Linked DNA regions of Homo sapiens: region 1 is linked to region 2. Evidence: fine-mapped expression QTL. A gene starts in region 2. The other region holds a variant in brackets. All regions are shown on one strand. Distances are between the middles of the regions.

Region 1 (4,388 bases), 120 kb after region 2:
AAAAAATAAAATAATTAGCCAGCCATGGTGGCATGTGCCTGTAGTCCCAGCTAGTCAGAAGGCCGATGTGGGAGGGTCACTTGAGCCCAGGAATTTGAGACCAGACTGGCCAACATAGTGAGACCGGTCTCTACCAAAATTTTTTTTAAAAAATTAGCCAGGCGTGGCGGTATGTGTCTGTAGTCTCACCTACTTGGGAGGCTGAGGCAGGAGGATCACTTGAGCCTAACAGTTCAAGGTTACCATGAGCCATGATCATGCCATACACTCCAGCGTGGGTGACAGAGTGAGAACCTGTAATAACAAATGGAAGGAAGGAAGGAAGGAAGGAAGGAAGGAAGGAAGGAAGGAAGGAAGGAAGGAAGGCAGGAAGGCAGGCAGGCAGGCAGGCAGGCAGGAAGGCAGGAAGGCAGGCTGGCTGGACGGAAAGAGGGAAGCAGGGAGGGAGGGAGAAAGGTACATCATAGTTATTATGAGGATTCAATGAAATAATCCTTTGTTGGGTGCCAACTGGCAAGATGAATTCAGTTTTCCATTGCATAAAAAGAATCGGGGGGTAGGCAGAGCTCCTCCTGAGGCCCATCTCTTACCTCAACAGGTGGCCTGCCAACCTCCCCTTAGGTCCCACACGCCTAGGACCTTGAGTGGAGTGAACTGAGACTTTAGGGCAAACTGAGGGTTTCTTTAGAAAGTCCAAGGAAAGAGTGATCACTTCTGGGTCCCGGTACTGCATGGGTGCCAGTTGAGGAAGCTTTGGTGGTAGGATCCGGCCAGAGGAGCTAACGCAGGAAAGGAGTTTGGGGTGGAAAAACTTCGTAAGCTAGGAGGTCCTATGATGTAGTGGATAAGAACAGGAGTGTATGTATATAATTTTATATTGTAGAAAATTGAAAGCATACACAAAAGTAGAAAAAATGTTCCCTAATGCATCTGTCACCCAGTTTCAATGATTGTCACCACATAGCCCATCTTTTTCTTTTTAACAATACACCTCACTCCACCACAAATCCATTCCACCCCCAACACAAACACCTATCCCTGGATTATTTGGAAGAAAATCTCATGTAATTTTAACTGTAAGTATTTCATTATGCATGTCTGAAATGTAAGGACACAGTAAAAAATAAACATTACAATACCATTATCATACCTATAATAACTAGCAATAATTCCTTAAAATCATCAAAGATACCTAGTCAGCAGAGCCCAGGCTTTTAATCTAGCCAAATCACTGTTCCAGTCTTCCTTCTACAGCATCAATAGCCTGTCTCAGAGCCTGTTTTACATTGTAAAATGAGGACGGTCATAACAATTCCTGAATCTTTAATAAGGTAATGCATGTAAAGTGCTTACCACAATGCCTGATACAAAGTAGTAAATGCTCAATAAAGGTTAGCTAAGATTATTTATTAATAATAATAGGAAATATTTGAGTTGCTATTAAGGTGCTTTTGAGAATGGCTTTGACTTAGAATCAAGAGGCAGATTTGGAGCCCAGCGAAATGATTGTTGCGGGGAGGAATAACGACAAAAACAAAACAAAAAAACTTTCAAAGTGGCTGAAAAGAGAGCACCGGTATGAACTGGGAAGTGGAGCTGCAGATGATGGCGTCCTGGTAATTTTCCTCCACTGTATGTAGTTTTTTCCCCCTGCAGTTCCCCTGGAGGAGAGAGGAGAACTGGCTCGGGTGGGGGTTGCAAATACTAGAAAGTATTCTGGGCAAGAAGGGGCACTGCAATCAAAGGGCTGGGGGCCCCCAGAGTCCTGGCTCAGGAGATGAAGTCTCAGGTTCCCTGGGCTCATGGGCCTAAAGCCCCACCTTGTGGGGAATGGTCTGAGTGACTCTGTTTCTGTGCACGGAGTTTGGAGGCATGAGGCAGGCTCACTACATCGTGTTAGAAACATTCCCATTGTTCAGGAATGGTCTTGCTCTCTGCTGCCAGTTCCAGGCATCAGCTGAAAGCTTTTTAATAAAAATGGAACTCAAAGGAGACGTGATAAGGTACCTGATTTTAACCTGAAGTGAGAGAACACCAGATGTTTCATTCTGTCTGAGGGTTTGAGAGGCAAAGCAATTAGCAGCTGCTACTGATTTAGCAACAGACACCTGCTAAATGAAAATCTGTAAAACCGGCCAGGCTTGGCAGCAGAAGCGCATACACTGCTTCTCAGGCATTTCTGGGAATTGTAAATTATGTTGGCTCAAATGGCAGGGCGGGGGGCTTCCAGTGAAGCTGAACATGCTCATCTAGACCAGGAGTGTGTTTTTCTAAGATGGCAATAACTTAGAAATGGCTATTTGGTTGGTGGATGGAGAGGACGAGATGAGAACGAATCTTCCAGAAGCTGCCTGGTTCGTCTCTGCTGCTGGCCCAGCTCACAGGTGCCCTCTGGGAGTCATCCTATAGCTGCCCTCTGGGGACAGATAGGGCTGACAGAAGGACGAGGGAATCCTGCCACCCCTCTCCTCCTGATCCAGAGCACATCTCTCCCTGCCACCAAAGGCAGTAAGTCTCAAAGCAGGAGGAACACCCA[C/A]CTCTGGACTCACAGCATCTCCTGCTCTGGGACAGTTACAGACTGTTGGCTTTAGCAGTGATTTGGAGAGTTTGTGCTTGCTTTGGCTGGGAAAGAGACTTATCCATAGCCTACTGCCTTTCAGGATTCTTTTCTAAGGGGATATCAATGCCTGCTCTCCACGTCTATTTTCTCGAGGCCCACAGTGGAGCACAAACAATGGAAACATAGGAATCCATGCAGAGGGCTTTAGCGATCTCCTGGGACACTGCTTCTGTCCTGTCTTTTAGCCCTTATAGTTTATAGTTTAGATTTTACATGTGTTTCCTATCTTTTCAACCTTTTCTAATAAGAATTCCTTACATGTGGATGGGACTTGGCAACCAGCAAATCTCACCTTAGTGTAGTTGTTGAGGATGGGTTCAGGGATTTTCTAGAAAATAAATCTATTTTCTAGGTTTATTTCCTGGCTGGGCCACTCCTGTGTGTGTGTGTGTGTGTGTGTGTGTGTGTGTGTGTGTGTGTGTGTGTGTGTGGTGTTGGTGGGAAGAACATAAGGTTCTTCATGGAGTGGGTGTTCAATATATGACTGATTGAAGAGAAGGTCAATTTGTAGGTCAACTAGGTGGTGCTGAAAGAATTGAGCAACTCCCATTTGTGCCTTATGCCACATGCACTGTACATAACTGTGTCTTGGTCTCCAAACTAGGCCAGAGGTCAACTGTAACTTGGGCCAAAGGTGCCTTCTGTTTCCAGTTTTGAGCAAGGGAATGGCAGCTCTCCATATGGAGCAGGGACCAGGGGGTGCTGTTGGCAGATGCATGGTGAGAGCTGTCCTGAGGAAGTACCATCCAGAGTCTCGTCCTAGCAAGGTGTTTTAGTGTGGTTAAAGGGTCACTCCTGGCCGGGTGTGGTGGCTCATGCCTGTAATCCCAGCACTTTGAGAGGCTGAGGCGGGCAGATCACCTGAGGTTGGCAGTTCGAGACCAGCCTGACCAACATGGAGAAACCCCGTCTGTACTAAAAATACAAAAATTAGCCGAGTATGGTGGCTCATGCCTGTAATCCCAGCTACTCGGGAGGCTGAGGCAGGAGAATCTCTTGAACCTGGGAGGCGGAGGTTGTGGTGAGCCAAGATCGCACCATTGCACTCCAGCCTGGGCAACAAGAGCAAAACTCCGTCTCAAACAAAACAAAACAAAACAAAACAAAACAACCACAACTCAACTCCTGCTTCCAAAGATGGAAGTGAGAGAAGATTCTTTTTCCTTTAACTGAGTGGGCCCTTAGTTGAGATATACAGACATGTTTTAATTTCACTAACTCGGCCCCACAGTGTAGGAGGGGGAAAGGAACAGCAAGTAGTCCAGGTAGAGGAAGAGCTAGGGTCCCCACACTCTAGCCAGAATTGGGGGAGCTCCACCTTCTCTGATCAGGGGAGAGACAGGATTCCCATCACCTCCTTCCAATAACTAAAATAACCACAGCACAAATATGTGTCCTGTATCAGCAAGCTGCCATTGAAAGAGGGCCATGGACCCTGCGTATGATAGAGCATGCTAGGTGCACTCATGGTCCTTATAAAAGCAGCCAGGTATGCATGGGCTGGGCCCTGCATGCACAAGTTACCCATTGGTCCACTAAACGTATGTTCCTAAAACCCATTATGGTCTTAAGAATTCAGACTGGCATGGATGCAAAAATTCAGATAACCCCTAAGTAATAAAAGTACTTATTTTTCTTTAGAACCTAAGACCTATAAGTCTCAACTAATTTGAAGAATACTCTGGTGACCAAAGGGAGAATGCCTCTTCAAAAGATTGCTTTTATTTGGAGGTTGCAGGCCTTGCATAGGGTCGTTCCCCCAGCCCCC
Region 2 (4,388 bases):
CAAGTCTATTAAGAAAGTAAAGGAATAAAGAATGGCTACTCCATAGGCAGAGTAGCAGCTTGGGCTGCTCAACTGATAATTCTTATGGTTATTTCTTGATTATATGCTAAACAAGGGGTGGATTATTCATGAGTTTTCTGGGAAAGGGGTGGGCAATTCTCAGAACTGAGGGTTCCTCCCCCTTTCAGACCATATAGGGTAACTTCTGGACGCTGGTGGGAGTGACTTTTAGCATGCTAATGCGTTATAATTTGCATATAATGAGCAGTGGGGACGACCAGAGGTAACTGTCATCACCTTTTTGGTTTTAGTGGGGTTTGGCCGGCTTCTTTACTGCATCCTGTTTTATCAGCAAGGTCTTTGTGACCTATAATCTTGTGCCGACCTCCTATCTCATCCCGTGACTTGGAATGCCTAACTTTTTGGGAATGCAGCTCAGTAGGTCTCAGCGTCATTTTATCCAGGCCCTGTTCAAGATGGAGTCGCTCTGGTTCTAACGCCTCTGACACTTGGAGAACATCAGGCCTATGGTAGATGTTGTACAAAACTTGGAGTCAGACAAGGCTACCTGGCTGTACTTGTTCGGAAAACCAGACTTGGAAAAAACGGGAGGGCGATGGCCTGATAATACAGTAGATTGCATTTTATGTTTTGAGCCTGGCTTGCAGCCAACATCCAAAAGTGTTTCCTAGGCAAGGTGCCTAACTGTGTTTTTCTGGATATTCTTCTAACTCATCGTGAGTCTTCAATAAATATTAAATAAACATGAGGAAGGTCCTGAGAAGGTCCTTTTACTGACCCTTGTCTCAAGAAAAGCAAATAGCCGATCGGTAAAAAGCAGCAGGTAGGAAGAGGGGATTTTATTTCCGTCAGTTGCCCTTATCCAGGTTTTGGGCTTAGTGCTGCTCCTCCACACTCATATAGTCCTGGCTGGCTTTTCCACGCATAGGTTAGGAAGCAACTGCTCTGGGGAGGGGGAAGGGGGGAAGAGGGGGAGGGAAAGAGGTCACGGGAAGCCTCCCTTCCTCCCACTGGCCTACCATTGAAGGCCTGTCAGGAGAAAGGAGAGAAGTGGGAGAGGGAGAGGGTGTGGCAGGGGTGGTCTGTGTGGCAAGAGGTAGAGAGAAAATAGTGGATCAGAGCAGGAGGGGGAGGAGCAGGGAAATGAAGCTCCTGTCCTAGGCACTGAAGTGTGGAGTGGGGCTGTGGCTAGAAAGGGGAGAGAAGATGCCTTTCTGGCCTTGCATGAGTCGTGGCAGAAAGGAGGAATCGCGAAGAGGAGCCGGCCATACCCAGCACACACCCCGAAGCCAAGCTGCTCATTACTAGAAAGGCTTATTCCCCCACAAGAAGTTAGTGCGGGCCAGCTAAGTGCCTACTATGTGTGCAGTATAGAAAGAAGTGCCCTGGAGAACCAGGTCGCGGGAGGCGGAGCCAGTCAACAGGGCTTCACCGAGGGGGCGAATTCTGTACACGGTTGTGAAGGAGGGTGGCTGTGCACGCGTGCAGGCTCCGAGTGCAGAAGACGAGGCAGGCCAGGGAGGAGGCGGAAGGAGGCGGAGCCTGAGCCGGAGGAGGGAGGAGGAGGGAGGAGGAGGAGGGAGAGCCGAAGCCGCGGAGGGTGGGAGGTGTGAATGGTGGACGGGTGAGGGGAGTGCCAGAGGCAGAAAAGGGAAGGAGGCGAGGAGGAGTAGTCGTGGCCCGAGGGCGTGTGGTGGGGCGAGAGCTGAACTGGACGGGAGGAGGGAGGCAGTGGCGGTGGCAGCGGGGAGGGGGAGGAGAGAGGGAGGGGAAGAAGGAGGAAGCGAGCGCGGCTGCTGCAGGGGGAGGAAGACGGGGAGGAGGAGCCGTGCGCCGCGGCGGCGGCCGCCAGGGGAACCGAGCGCCCGGCGCGGAGAGCGCGGGAGCGGAGCAGTAGCCCGATCCGGGGCCGCGGGCCGAGCTGCCGGTGAGTGAAGCCCCGAGGGGCGCGGCGGCCGGTCCCCGGGGCTGGGCGGGAGGCGCGGGAGGTTGCGGCGCCGGGGAGGAGGGAGGGGGGCCGGCTTTAGTCCAGGGGCCGGCTTTAGTCCAGCCCCCGGCTGGCCCGGCCTCCCGCCTTCCCTCTGGCTTCCTCCCTCCGCTGCCTGCGCGAGGGGGGCAGGTCCCGGGCGGGCCGCGGGCTGGGGGTGGTGCTGCCCGGAGGGCGGGCGTCTAGGGCCGGAGGGTGGAGCTGGGGGTTCGGGGGTGTACCCGGGGGCGGGAGGCTGGACAAGGACGGCTCTAAATTGGCTGGAGGGGCCCGTCGGCGGCGAAGTTGCTAGCTGGGGGCAGAGACGGCCACGCGGTTGCAGGAGTAAGAGATCCCTCTGTGGCGAGTGCGTGAGACGAGGAGTCCGGCGTCCCTGCCATCCCCGTCGCCCTCCCCGCCTGCTCGGCCCCGCTAGCTCCTCTCCTTGCCTCCGCGTGTCCCCTAGCTCTGACCCCTTTTGGCTCCCGGTTCGCTGCCGCAGCACTGCCGGGTCTCCTTGGCCCCCGCCCTGACCCTTTCGGCCTCCGGCTTCCCCTGACCCCTGCTTGCTTCGCCACTGCCCCGTTCCCGTTTTCTTCCCTCGCTAGTTACCCCTCCCGCTTCCTAATTCCCGGTGCAATTGCCTCTTTGAGACCTCTTTTTTTTTTTTTTCCTCTCCTTCCTTTTAGATTGGCCAACGGCTCCTTTCAACCCTGCCTCGTTGGTGGCCACTGGAGAAGCGCGGGGGGCTCCCCCAGACAGCCGTGGGGACAAGTTAGAGCCAGCACTTTACCCCGGGCCTTGCGTGTAGCTTCCCCTCCCCTACTCTCGGTGCCCTGGTGTCTGGAGGGGGGTTGTGGGGGTGTGCCCGCCTTACATGGTCCACCACCCGGGCAACCCTCTGGGCTTGTGTTCCATCTCACTCTTGCTTCCTGTACTGTGGTCAAGGGGAACCACTGCATCATGTCCCGGTATAGCTACCAGAGTCTCCTGGACTGGCTCTATGGGGGCGTGGACCCCAGTTTTGCAGGCAATGGGGGCCCCGACTGTGCTGCCTTCCTCTCTTGGCAGCAGCGGCTGCTGGAAAGTGTGGTGGTCCTGACCCTGGCTCTGTTGGAGATCCTGGTGGCCCTGCGGCACATCCTGAGGCAGACGAAGGAGGACGGTAGGGGTAGCCCTGGCAGCCAGCCAGAGCAGGTGACCCAGCGGCCAGAGGAAGGCAAGGAGAGCCTGAGCAAGAATCTGCTCTTAGTAGCCCTGTGCCTGACCTTCGGGGTGGAGGTGGGCTTTAAGTTCGCCACCAAGACCGTCATCTACCTGCTCAACCCCTGTCACCTGGTCACCATGATGCATGTGAGTCTGTTGACTTTTTCCTGGGCATCCTAAGTGATAAGAGTCATTTATGTGCTCAGGACACTCCATAGTGTACAGCACCTCATCCCGGCGGGCAGGGGGACCTTTAAAAATGATTTTCCAACGAGTGGCTGCCTTTGTGCCGATTTCAGGTTTGGCTTTCTTTCACCTTTGCACAGTGCGTCAGCCCCACAGTGGAGGTGAGGAACCTTGTGCCTGAACCCTAGGAACGACTGGCACTCACCCTGGCTGCCCCTCCCTTCCAGCCCAGCCCAACCCTGCCGTGCCCTGGGCTTTCACAAGCAGGAATTCCAGCCCCAGCCAGGTGCCCTTTCTGAATCACATCAGTGGACCATGACCCAGCTCCCTTGCCTTCTGTGGTAGTTAATTTCCCAGGGGCCTGGTGACACTCTTTCCTGGAGGTGGTCGCATAAACTTTCTCATCTACACTGTGGTACTTTGGGGAAATACTTTTACAGGTTTCTCTTAATGACTCTTTCATTTGGGAGTGTATGCTCTTAGAGTGAGGTCTGCCTTTGCATTTTGAGGCATTGGAGCAGCACCAAGCTCCTACTAAATGAGTTCTGAAGCAGGTCCCCAGGCTGACATGTGTACTTTGGGCTGGTGATCACTATGGTGAGAGGGTATTTCTTTTTTTGCAAACCTCTCCATCCTATTACTGTCATTCTGTCTCCTATGGTCATAGTCCAAGGGTGCTTAGGAAGCTGATTTCTTTACCTCATCGACTTCCACCCATTAGCGGTGCTAAGGAAAACAAATGGGATTGAAAAGGCAAGTTGCCAGATACATAAAAATAATCTGGGTGAGGACCAAGAGTGAGACTGTCTGTATTCAGCCTGTGTGGAGAGATGTTCTAAAGCTATAAAATCATGGAGGAGGAGGAAGAGGAGACTGGGAGAGCAATCAGTCTTTTTTAGATTTCAGGCTGTGGAAAACCGGGTGTGTTTTATTCAGGGGCAGTTTTGAAACCTGTCATTAGCATCTTTACTGCCTTTATGTTTGTAGAAGGTTATTCTTTGGAGACTTG

Alleles and levels. Positions count from the first base shown, and alleles are read on the strand shown. Sizes are in standard deviations (SD) of each study's normalised expression.
For the expression in subcutaneous fat of the gene that starts at base 2,290 in region 2, allele A in region 1 goes with a lower level than allele C (small effect, 0.14 SD a copy in GTEx).

What was found. PIP is the estimated chance that this variant, and not a neighbour inherited with it, causes the effect.
Region 1: its variant is the best candidate, but not a certain one, in a credible set for the expression of TMEM164 in subcutaneous fat (GTEx, PIP 0.80).

What each region holds. Positions count from the first base shown.
Region 1 is chrX:110,123,814-110,128,201 of GRCh38, forward strand. The region is part of intron 4 of TMEM164 (transmembrane protein 164); the gene reads left to right. Among named protein-coding and RNA genes, the nearest start is that of MIR3978, 44 kb to the left of the region's middle. The variant C/A (reference allele first, on the strand shown) is at 2,537.
Region 2 is chrX:110,000,825-110,005,212 of GRCh38, forward strand. TMEM164 (transmembrane protein 164) reads left to right here and starts at 2,290. Exons shown (of 7, transcript NM_032227.4): 1 at 2,290-2,354; 2 at 2,677-3,340. The coding sequence starts at 2,951. RefSeq lists a silencer at 1,535-2,394 and an enhancer at 2,497-3,152.